Linked DNA regions of Homo sapiens: region 1 is linked to region 2. The links come from fine-mapping of genetic effects on gene expression. A gene starts in region 2. The other region holds a variant in brackets. All regions are shown on one strand. Distances are from middle to middle. Region 1 has its middle 11 kb from the start of H1-2. Region 2 holds the start of H3C2 (H3 clustered histone 2).

The links. PIP is the estimated chance that this variant, and not a neighbour inherited with it, causes the effect.
Region 1: its variant is the best candidate, but not a certain one, in a credible set for the expression of H3C2 in whole blood (INTERVAL, PIP 0.83).

The regions. Positions count from the first base shown.
Region 1 is chr6:26,064,354-26,069,737 of GRCh38, forward strand. No RefSeq gene overlaps it. Among named protein-coding and RNA genes, the nearest start is that of H1-2, 11 kb to the left of the region's middle. RefSeq lists a silencer at 274-413 and an enhancer at 2,260-2,759. The variant C/T (reference allele first, on the strand shown) is at 3,204.
Region 2 is chr6:26,029,226-26,034,609 of GRCh38, forward strand. H3C2 (H3 clustered histone 2) reads right to left here and starts at 2,874. Exons shown (of 1, transcript NM_003537.4): 1 at 2,364-2,874. The coding sequence starts at 2,835. The coding sequence ends at 2,425. It overlaps H2AC4 (H2A clustered histone 4), which reads right to left and starts at 4,393. Exons shown (of 1, transcript NM_003513.3): 1 at 3,867-4,393. The coding sequence starts at 4,343. The coding sequence ends at 3,951. RefSeq lists enhancers at 2,511-2,740, 2,781-2,900, 3,838-4,467, 4,771-4,830, 4,871-4,920 and 1 more and a silencer at 4,251-4,350.

The DNA of each region.
Region 1 (5,384 bases), 35 kb after region 2:
TTCATTCTGACTCCCTGCATTCTATGAGACAACCACCATTGTAATCATTCTCACGTTGCCAATAAGGAAATGGAGAATGAGAATTCAGACTTCTCCAAGAAGTGCTGCAGACTGATTATAAATCATGCATCCTAAACACACACATATTAAAGTATCAACTAAATCAAACAGAATAAAACTTTTGTTTTTCTATCTACAAAATGCATGAATTAAAATATGCCCCAACTACTTAACTAATATATTTAGTAAGTAGAGGGATGGAAGCGTTTTCACTCCTTCAATACATTCTTCATCAACCTCTCTCACCTTACCCCTCTGTCACAGGCATTTCCTATGTCATGCGGTTTTTCTGATGTACGCTAGGTGGCAGTCAAAACCACGAACTCTTGAAAGAGAGTATATTCCTATTTTTCTGCAGCCTCAACCTCCAGGGCTCAAACGATCCTCCTGCCTCAGCCTCCTGAGTAGCTGGGGCCACAGGTGCGAGCCACCACACCTGGCTAACTTTTACATTTTTGATAGAGACGGGGTCGCCATGTTAGCCAGCCTGGTATCGAATTCCTGACCTCAGGTGATCTGCCCGCCTCAGCCTCCCAAAATGTTGGAATAACAGGAGTGAGCCACAGTACCTGGCCGGTAATTTTTAACTTCTAGCTATACACTTAGTTTTTTGTCCTTTTCAGTGGACAGAAATTATAATGCCTGTTTGACAGGGGATAATTCTGAGGCACTGGGAAGCCATGAGACTGCATGGATTGCACAGGCAGGCAAGAACATGGGAAGGAACAAGTGTCTTAGACACTTGTCTCAGTGGTCTAGAAAAATCATGCTAGCTGATTCATTCACTCCACAAACAACTGATCAACATCTTCAAGAAGCCTAACAATGTACTGAGTTCAGGGGACAAGAAAATAATTCAGACAGGCTCTACCTTCATGGTGGTGTTTGAAGAATAGGGATCTAGAAAACGGTAGGTAATAGTGGCTGTGCAAAAGATATCAGAGATGATATGAAAAGGAGGGACTAGACCATTTTACCCAGGAGTGGAGGTTAAACATAGGGTCTTTAAGGGAAACGTAAAAATATTAATTCTTTTCATTTTTGAAGTAAAATGACCATCGCTTCTCGGCCGTTTGGCTAAGAACAAGTGAAGTAAAATGACTGAGGATGACAGACATAAATACTGCTATACAAACATGGTAGCACTGAAATTGGCTCTTGCCTGACAGGAAGCAAAATTATAAAATTCATTATTTAGATATATCAATAATGATGGTGATCAGGCTGTAATAATAATGTTATTAATCATTATGTATCAATAAGAATACAGGTGTGTGACTTTACAATGTGCCTAAGAGCAACCCAATATTTTGATTGTAAACCACATTCCCTTAAACACACACACACCTCAAACAAGACCCCATAAAGCAGACTGCACTAAAGTGGAGGTTATGTAAAAGTCCAACAGAATAAGAACCCTCCCCCATTGTGTATTAATCTGTGAACTAAAAAAAAATTTCATTAAATTGAAAATATCTAATTGTCAACTAGCAATTTTAAAGAGTTTAGGCAGAAAATGAAATATAAAGCTTTTTTTTAACTTTTAGATTTTTCAAAGCTAGCAGAACTGCTGAAGAATAACAATTCAAAACATAGGTTTGCTTTGGTTTCAATCTCTGTAGCCAAAGGCATTTACAATGTAGGATGTTGTTTGTGCTTTCAGACACTAGATGACGCTCCAAATCAAAATGCCGGTAGTTGGACAGCCCCTGATCAAGCCGCCCGGCAAATCATTAACTGGGTTGACACTGTATTACTCAGCAGATTTCAAAACTCATTCACATACAGAGTCTTTTGGTGGACAAAAATAATTATTACCCACAATTGACAGTGACAGTACTGAGAAGCTGGGAAACTGAAGTAGGACCCTGGAGCAGCCAAGTACAGAGACTGGCTCCCAGGACCTTAGGAGTTAATACTATTCCTAAAGAGAATAAATTGTCAAATAGACAAGAAATTCATGTGGGTTGATGCATTCACTTCCCCAAAACAATTATTAAGCAGTAGAAATGATAACTACGCTGGTAGTGGAAATAGTTTACAGTAAAAGGGAGAAGACATGCAAAAACCAAAAAAAAAAACGGGGCCGGGCGCAGTGGCTCACTCCTGTAATCCCAGCACTTTGGGAGGCTGAGGCGGGCCGATCACGAGGTCAGGAGATCGAGACCATCCTGGTTAACAAAGTGAAACCCCGTATCTACTAAAAATACAAAAATTAGCCGGGCTTGGTGGTGGGTGCCTGTAGTCCCAGCTGCTCAGGAGGCTGAGGCAGGAGAATGGCGTGAATCCGGGAGGCGGAGCTTGCAGTGAGCGGAGATCACACCACTGCACTCCAGCCTGGGCAACAGAGCAAGACTCCGTCTCCAAACAACAACAACAAAAAAACAGGCAGTGATGTTTTATGTGGGTCAGTGTGAAGTAGAGATCAAAGGAGAAAACGGCCAATCTTACCAAATAATGGATGCAGAAATAATCTTCATGGAGAAGCCACTTTAATTATGTCTTAAATGAGAGTAACAAATTAAACATAAGAACCTGTAGGGGCTAAGGGAAAACTTACTCTTTGGCCTCTGAAGAGTCGCTGAAAACCACCGACAAGAGGAAGATTAATAGGATAAAATGCATCCAATTTATTATTATTATTATTATTATTATTATTATTATTATTATTTTTAGACGGAGTCTCACTCTGTCACCAGGCTGGAGTGCAGTGGCGCAATCTCGGCTCACTGCAACCTCCGCCTCCCGAGTTCAAGCAATTCTCCTGCCTCAGCCTCCCCAGTAGCTGGGACTACAGGCATGTGCCACCACGCCCAGCTAACTTTTGTATTTTTAATAGAGACGGGGTTTCACCATTTCGGCTAGGGTGGTCTTGACCTCGTGGTCTGCCCGCCTCAGCTCCCAAAGTGCTGGGATTACAGGCGTGAGCCATTGCACCCGGCTGCATCCAATTTATTAATGTGTATATTAATAAATTATCCAATTTATATCCAATTTATTAATGTGTATTAACATGTACAGGGGAAATTGTCCATTTTTATTTTTTAGATTCAACAAAGTATGGGCCGCCGTGTAGAAATAGGATTGCTAATAAACAGAGTAGGGAAACCCAGCAAGGCCTGTCTGTCTAGATTCTTCTTCGC[C/T]TCTCTGTGCAGCATTCCTTCCTTCTGGATCCTCTCTGGAATGCGGTCTGGTGATCTATGATCAAATAAGGTAGTTCAGATAATTTCTTTATGGCCAGTTTTTACACAGAAAAACAGAGGGAAAGTTAGAGTAATATTTTTAGGTTTTATGGCTGGGCTCTGGGGAAAAGGTGTTTTGATTTCTATGACCTAACTTGAGGAAGAGGAATTCTCATTTCTATGGCTAGACTCCGGGGAGAATGGGACTCAGAGACAGGAGGGCAGGAGAAGATCAGAGAAAAACTTTGGCTTCTGCGGTCTTTATTTTGGGGTATTGTTTTCTGAGTTCCAACAAACCCCAAGGACCTACAAAGACTGCATACTTTTTTTTTCCTTTTTATTAATTGTGAGATAACCACAGCATAGGCAATTTGTTTTTTGTTTTTGTTTTTGAGACAGGATTTTGCATTGTTGCCCAGGCTGGAGTGCAGTGGCATAATCATAGCTCACTGCGTCCCCAAACTTCTAGGCTCAAGAGATCCTCCCAGCTTAGCCACAACTGAGAGGTGCTACTAGCATTTAGTGAGTAGAGAACAGATATGACTAGAGGTTCATTAAGTGTTTTGAGCCTTTACAGCTTCAAAATTGTCTTTGCTAACCCCTAACTTTTGGATGCTACAGAGGGCCCCTGGAGTATCCAAAGGAGAGGTAAACAGGATCATTTGACACGTTTAGTTATATAGGATTGTTGAAATAAGGTGATATTTGATCTTCAGGTCATATTTCAGTGAAAACTGTGAATGTGTGTTCCAAAATTATAGGGGATTTCTAGAGTTCTGATATCTGAGTTTGTGTCATCAGTTATAATTAGAGTTATTGTGTTAGGCTATTGTAAATCACAGAGGTGACTAAATTTCTTTGTCAATTGTGTTTTTGACTGTGACTACCCTAGGACATTTTAACATTCATAGACAAATGTTGTCTTGTTTTGAAACTCTGCAAAGAATGGATTATAACCCTCAATTGCAGGTTTCTGATAACTTTGAAGATTGTGAACAGGAGTTAACTAGGTGAGCTGAACTATTGGAAAACTAATCTTCTTGACTCTTGCCTCTGTACCTAATTCTTCCTGGATGCAGGACAAGAACTCAGGCAAAGGTGCTGCAGCATAAAGTCTGGCCAGAGAAACTGACACTCCAGAGGTTTTGTAACAATATTTTATGTTAAATAATTTATACGTATTTCCTATTCTAAGCATTTCAAGTGATTGTAAAAACTCAACTCATGAAAACTTATAGCTGAGATGATGTATCCTGTGATTTTTAACTCAACTTTATACCAATCTAAGTTGATTAGCATTCTTACAAAGTTTAAGAAGTTAAGATTTGCCATATTAAGTATTGTCTTAAGATTTTTAAGAATTGAAAAATTTGGAGCAGTTTTGTTCATTAGTCAATTGGATACTTTAAAAGTCCAGTATGTCAGATTTAAAAATTGCAATTTATAAGTTTTCTTCTTAAAGTTCGTCAAATTGCAAAAGCCTTGCCAAAAATGAATGTTAAAAATTTGGTAGATTATTTGTTCTATGGGTTCTATGGGAAAAAATTGGTAGATTAATAAATGCCAATAGTAAGCATTGTAAATTGAATTTAAAAGTTTAAGGAAGAGCTATTAATTTAATTTTGTCATAATAATGAATTGAATGTTGTTTTTTAAGTACCATAGTACTTGCTGAATGATCTTTCTGTATGGAAAAGGACATAAAAATGCACATTGGTAACATCAACTCTATTTCAGCGGCGGGATTGTGGGGTGAGCTTATCTCCAGGTTTGGGAAGGATGTGTTGTATCATCTGCCTCTTGTGTGTGTACTACCTGCCATTGCTGCTTGGCCACCAGCATCCATCTTGGTGAGTCCTGTCTCCCTCTAAAAGACTCGAGCTGTGCTGTTCAATCCAGTAGCCCCTAGCTACATGTAGCTATTGTAATGAATTAAAATTAAGTAAAATTAAACATTCTGCTCCTCAGACACCAGTCACATTTCAAGTGCACAATAGTCACAAGTGGCCAGTAGCTAGTTTTGAACAGTGTGGAAAGATTTCTGTCATCACAGAGCATTCTATTATCACGTTGTAAAGCATTCTCTAGCTCTTGCAAACTTGTCAGATCCCTTAAAAGTTCTTAAAAATAATTCATCATTCG
Region 2 (5,384 bases):
ACAAACAACATTTAATGCACACAATCTCTATCTTGTAGGGAGGCAAAATTTTACCTCTACTCTGTTAGGGTCTCCAGCTGGACCTGATAATTCATTTGCCATAAAACAGATTAGCAGAATGAAAGCATACAAATGTATTTAATGTAAATTTTATGGGACAGGAGAACCCTCATAAAAAAGTGAAGCCCCAAAGAAATGGCAAAAGCTAAATGCTTTCACATTAAGTTAAAGAGAGGCAATTGTGGGAAAGTAAACCATATGAGGAGATTAAAGGAATATATGATTATTTTAACAAGGTTTGTTTGTGTATAGAAGTCTCTCGGCTATGACTCCCTGCTGTGTTTGTGCAGAATTATCTCATCTATGCCTCTGGGCTGAAGAATATGTCTTTTCACCTGGTACAAGCAGAGCATTTTTCACATTGGAACTTTTATCTCCTGTTTTCAGAAAGAAAAGTTTAGAAGAATTCCCTTCTTGAATGCTGTTTTTGAAGTGCCTTTAGCTCAAAAGAATCCTGATCCCACAGTGGTCTATTTTTGGATGGTATATTCTGCAAACAACACCCCCTTTTTGTCTCCAATCTCTCCTTAATTACTCCTCTAATACAAAACAATAGATTCTTAATATAATATTAAAATGTTTGCACTACTCACAAATACAAAATGCTCAATAAATTTTCTTTCACAAATGAGAATTTCATCCATTCGTTAATTTTTAAATATCAACTGTCAATGAAGAGTTACAGCAGAATCCTTGTTCTGTTGAGGAGGGGGCAAAGAATGTAAGTGAGGGAGTGGAAAATAGCTGGACTGAGCTACCACCCCCTGTCCATCTGATCCTCAGACAGTAATGTAACTTTATTCTTTTATGCTATTCGTCAGACCCAGTACCTCCAACACATTTGTTTCCTACAGATAAAGAAAATATAAAAAGTCAAGCGCTATACATCAGATCCAGCACATCTATAACTGGAAAAAAAATACTTGACCTTCAGCTGGGCCCAGAGCTTGTGAGTAGTCACCTTGGCATAGACCAAGTCCATTGGCATCTCTAACATATCTATACTGTCTGTGGATAACAAATGTCTATGCCAGTTAGAGTCGCTTGTATAAGAGTCAAGAAAAACGAATCATAAAACAAACTGACATATTCATTTTCATAATTTTTAAAATGCAAATATTACTTTATAAACCAAAAACTGCCTTATTAAAAGCTGGAACACAAATGAATTTAAGTAAACGATGCAATTCAAATTTAATCTTTTGTGTGTGTGATTTGTTGTTGTTGACAGTTGGTCAGGCGATTTTAGTATGGTACATCAGTTTACATTCTAGATGTAGGCCAAGAAAGAATGTTAGGTGTAAAAAATATTTATTGTAAAAAAGAATGTGAGGCAAGGTCTTTGGAATTAGTAGTTTTAATGTTGGACATTCTGTGGTTGTTCTAAAGTTAGTCTGTAAAATGTGATGTAAAAGCTATATGATAAAAAAATACAAAATATAAAAATTTTAAAGTAAATATTACTTTTGTTTGCGTACAGTATTCCCATCCCTCTAAATTTTCTTCCAGTACTCAATCCCCAACCTCCAAAACCGAAAAGCAAGATCAACAGAAAGAAAATGGTTAAAACTTGTAAATTCTAGATTTTAATAACTACAGGCAAGAAGTACTGAAAAAAAGAATGTGGCATGTCATGGTGCATAGTCCTAGAGGAGACAAAGCAATGCAACCAGATAGACTATTTACAAGCAAAGCCACACATATAAAAATTCATATATAAGGGATTAAATTATGCTTGGTCGACAGACTGACAGATTTAAAGTGGGTAGCTAGCTATGGATAAAATGAGAGCCAGTTAGATCCCTGCCTCACATTTTGCACCAGAATAAATTTCAGGTTAATGTTAACAGCCAAATGAATTTAACAGTATATATATATATATATATATATATAATATATGAGAAAACCTAGGGGACTATGTATTGAGCTGAGAAAATCTTCCTAAGCATTTTGAGGAAGACACTGGAACTCGCAAGACACAATTTTCTAATCTTTTCAAAGCTTTGCAAAAATGCCTAGTAAGCGCCAGTTAACTACTTACCAGATTTTTCCCTTACTCTTACAAAGTTGTTTAAACAAATGCTAATCATAGCAAGCTAGAGGCCTGAATGATAGTGGACTTACACAGCTTCTCTCCAAATAGCACCTTAATAAGGTCAGAAATAACCTACACTGCAAGACTGACCAAACCGTTATTTCTGTTAATCAACTTTAAGACCATAGTCTAATGCTTTCCGGGGGGGTCCTTAGAAATTTGTTCTGTTAAGACAACAAAAAATTATCACAGCTACTTTCGTTGGAATAAGTGGGTGGCTCTGAAAAGAGCCTTTGGGTTTTAAGACTGATGAAAAAGTGACTTTACATTTACGCTCTTTCTCCGCGAATGCGGCGAGCGAGCTGGATGTCTTTGGGCATAATAGTCACTCGCTTAGCATGGATGGCGCAAAGGTTTGTGTCCTCAAAGAGCCCTACCAAGTAGGCCTCACAAGCCTCCTGCAGCGCCATCACCGCAGAGCTCTGGAAGCGAAGATCGGTCTTGAAGTCTTGGGCGATTTCTCGCACCAGGCGCTGGAACGGCAGCTTCCGAATCAGCAACTCGGTCGACTTTTGGTAGCGGCGGATCTCGCGCAGAGCCACAGTGCCCGGGCGGTAACGGTGAGGCTTTTTCACGCCGCCGGTAGCCGGCGCGCTCTTGCGAGCAGCCTTGGTAGCCAGCTGCTTGCGTGGCGCTTTACCGCCGGTGGATTTCCGAGCTGTCTGTTTAGTACGAGCCATGGCAAAACCACAGAAAAGCTTGCCTGCAGAGACGTCTGTGGAGGAAAGGAAAGAGCTACTCTTCTTTTATAGAGTCAGACCACCAACTATTGGACCCAAGAAAATTCAAAAATCCCCGCGCCCTTCTTGGATTGGTCCATCTCTGTGCCTGGTTGCAGATTAAGAGAGGCTCCTGCCCATTACCGTAGCTACTCTGACGTCATTTTGTTAACCCCTTAGCTGCTATATCCACTGTGGACAAGTCTTGTACTGGAAAAGTTTCCTGAAGTCTTAAAATTTACAACCACACAAAGCAACGCGGAAACCTCCAATTGTTTCTAGTTAAAATATAAAAAAGAAATCAGAGAATATTGGAGACGATTAGGGAAATTTGCATATGCGCTTTATTTAAAATTGTATTTTTCTGGGTGTCGCATAAGAAGTGTGGGCAATTAGAAAAATGCTCTTAGCCGGGCGTGGCGGCTCTCGCCTGTAATCCCAGCTACTCAGAAGGCTGTCAAGAGGATCGCTTGAGCCCGAGTTCGAGGTTACAGTGAGCTGTTATCACGCCGCTGCACTGCAGCTTGGGCGAGAGGGAGACTCCACCCCAAAACAAAGCAAAACATCCCCAAACTGGAAAAAAGCTCATTTTGGGAAATACATACTCAAATGTTCAGTGGTAATGTGTGTGCTCTCAATTGTGTATGCCATTAATTGCTACAGCAAATGGTATGACATATTCAAACTTGTGTGGGGCATGCGGGTTTTAACACTTCCATTCAAGATAGTTAGGAATGCACTCATGGGTATAATTTCCTTCCTCTAAAATGTAGTAACTGCTGTGTGTGAAACTTAACGCGAATCACCCCTGTAAACATGTTTTGTGCTGCATGGCACTTCTCCCACATACCTAGAATTCCTGAGGTTTCTATGGATCTAATTTCTGCAGGACAAATTACTAAAAGTGCCACACTCAAAGCCATTAAAAACACCTCAAAAACATCTTTATGGGCGGCATAATCCAAAGCACAACAGCTCATTTAATGGAAGTCGTAGGTGGCTCTGAAAAGAGCCTTTGCTGTTAGGCTGATTTTGTCTGCTGACAGAAAAACAGCAGTGCATGAAGCGTTAACTCTTCACTTTCCCTTGGCCTTATGATGGCTCTCAGTTTTCTTAGGCAGCAGCACCGCCTGAATATTAGGCAAAACGCCACCCTGCGCGATGGTCACACGCCCCAAGAGTTTATTAAGCTCCTCGTCATTGCGGATGGCCAATTGCAGGTGGCGCGGGATGATGCGGGTCTTCTTGTTGTCGCGGGCCGCATTGCCCGCCAGCTCCAGGATCTCGGCGGTCAGGTACTCAAGCACCGCCGCGAGATACACCGGCGCGCCAGCCCCGACGCGCTCGGAGTAGTTGCCTTTGCGGAGCAGGCGGTGCACTCGGCCCACAGGAAACTGCAAACCTGCACGAGAAGACCGAGTCTTAGCCTTGGCGCGAGCTTTACCGCCTTGTTTGCCGCGACCAGACATAACTACTTCTGATAAGGGAAAATCGCCACAAGAAAATGTAATGAAACTACATTAGAACGCAAGGCAGAGAAGTATTTATACTGACTGGAGGTAGGCTGTGAGGAATTCTCCCATTGGCTAATGTCAAATACCCAATGGGAAATCAGAATCTGCATCCTTCATTTGCATGTAATCCTTCCGTCTGGTGTAAGGTTTATGTTTGACCCAATCCCCAGTCTGGCTTGACGAGCCTTCGACTTGAATACTAATAATAATTGGCCGAATTAGGATTTTGTCAAAATACCTTTTTTAAGCATGAGTGGAGGTTTTGTTCTGGTTATTTTGACTTTCAGCCGCTCGTGCTTTTCCCGGATTGTGACTCATGTTTTTGGAAAGGAGTGGACTCCGACCAATTTCTAAATAGATATTTAAGAGGTCCTTCAAATCGGGCGCAGTGGCTCATGCCCGTAATACCAGCACTTTGGGAGGCCGAGGACGGCGGGTCAGGCGTTCGAGACCAGCGTGGACAACATGGAGAAACCCTGTCTCCAGTAAAATAACCAAAAAAGAAACGGGGGAGAAAAAGAAAAAAAAAAGCCGGGCTTGGTAGTGCACGCCTGTAGTTCCAGTTACTCGAGAAGCTGAGGTGGGAGGATCGCTTGAACCCGAGAGGAGGAGGTTGCAGTGAGTTCACATAGAGCCACCACACTCCAGCGTGGGCGACAGAGCCAGAAGACTGTGTCTCAAAGACAAAAAAAGGGGAGGGGGAGTGGGAGGGAAGAAAAGCGAATACCCCAAATCCCAGTGAACTGTAGAAGCTTATAAGCTCTCTTGATTCATAAGGGAGAAAGAAGGGGGATGTAGGCAACTTAGGGGAGAGTATATGATTTTGGAGAAAAATAAATGGGTGTTTCAAAGAATAGGTGACAGCTGTGACAAAGTCTGTTTAGATGGTGTTAACCACCAGTCTCCTCTCCTGTGATACAGTTAATCTTCTCTGGTTGATGAGATTCCCCAGGGAAGTGAATCTTAACAACTAAATTCCTTTTTGAATTTTTTTTT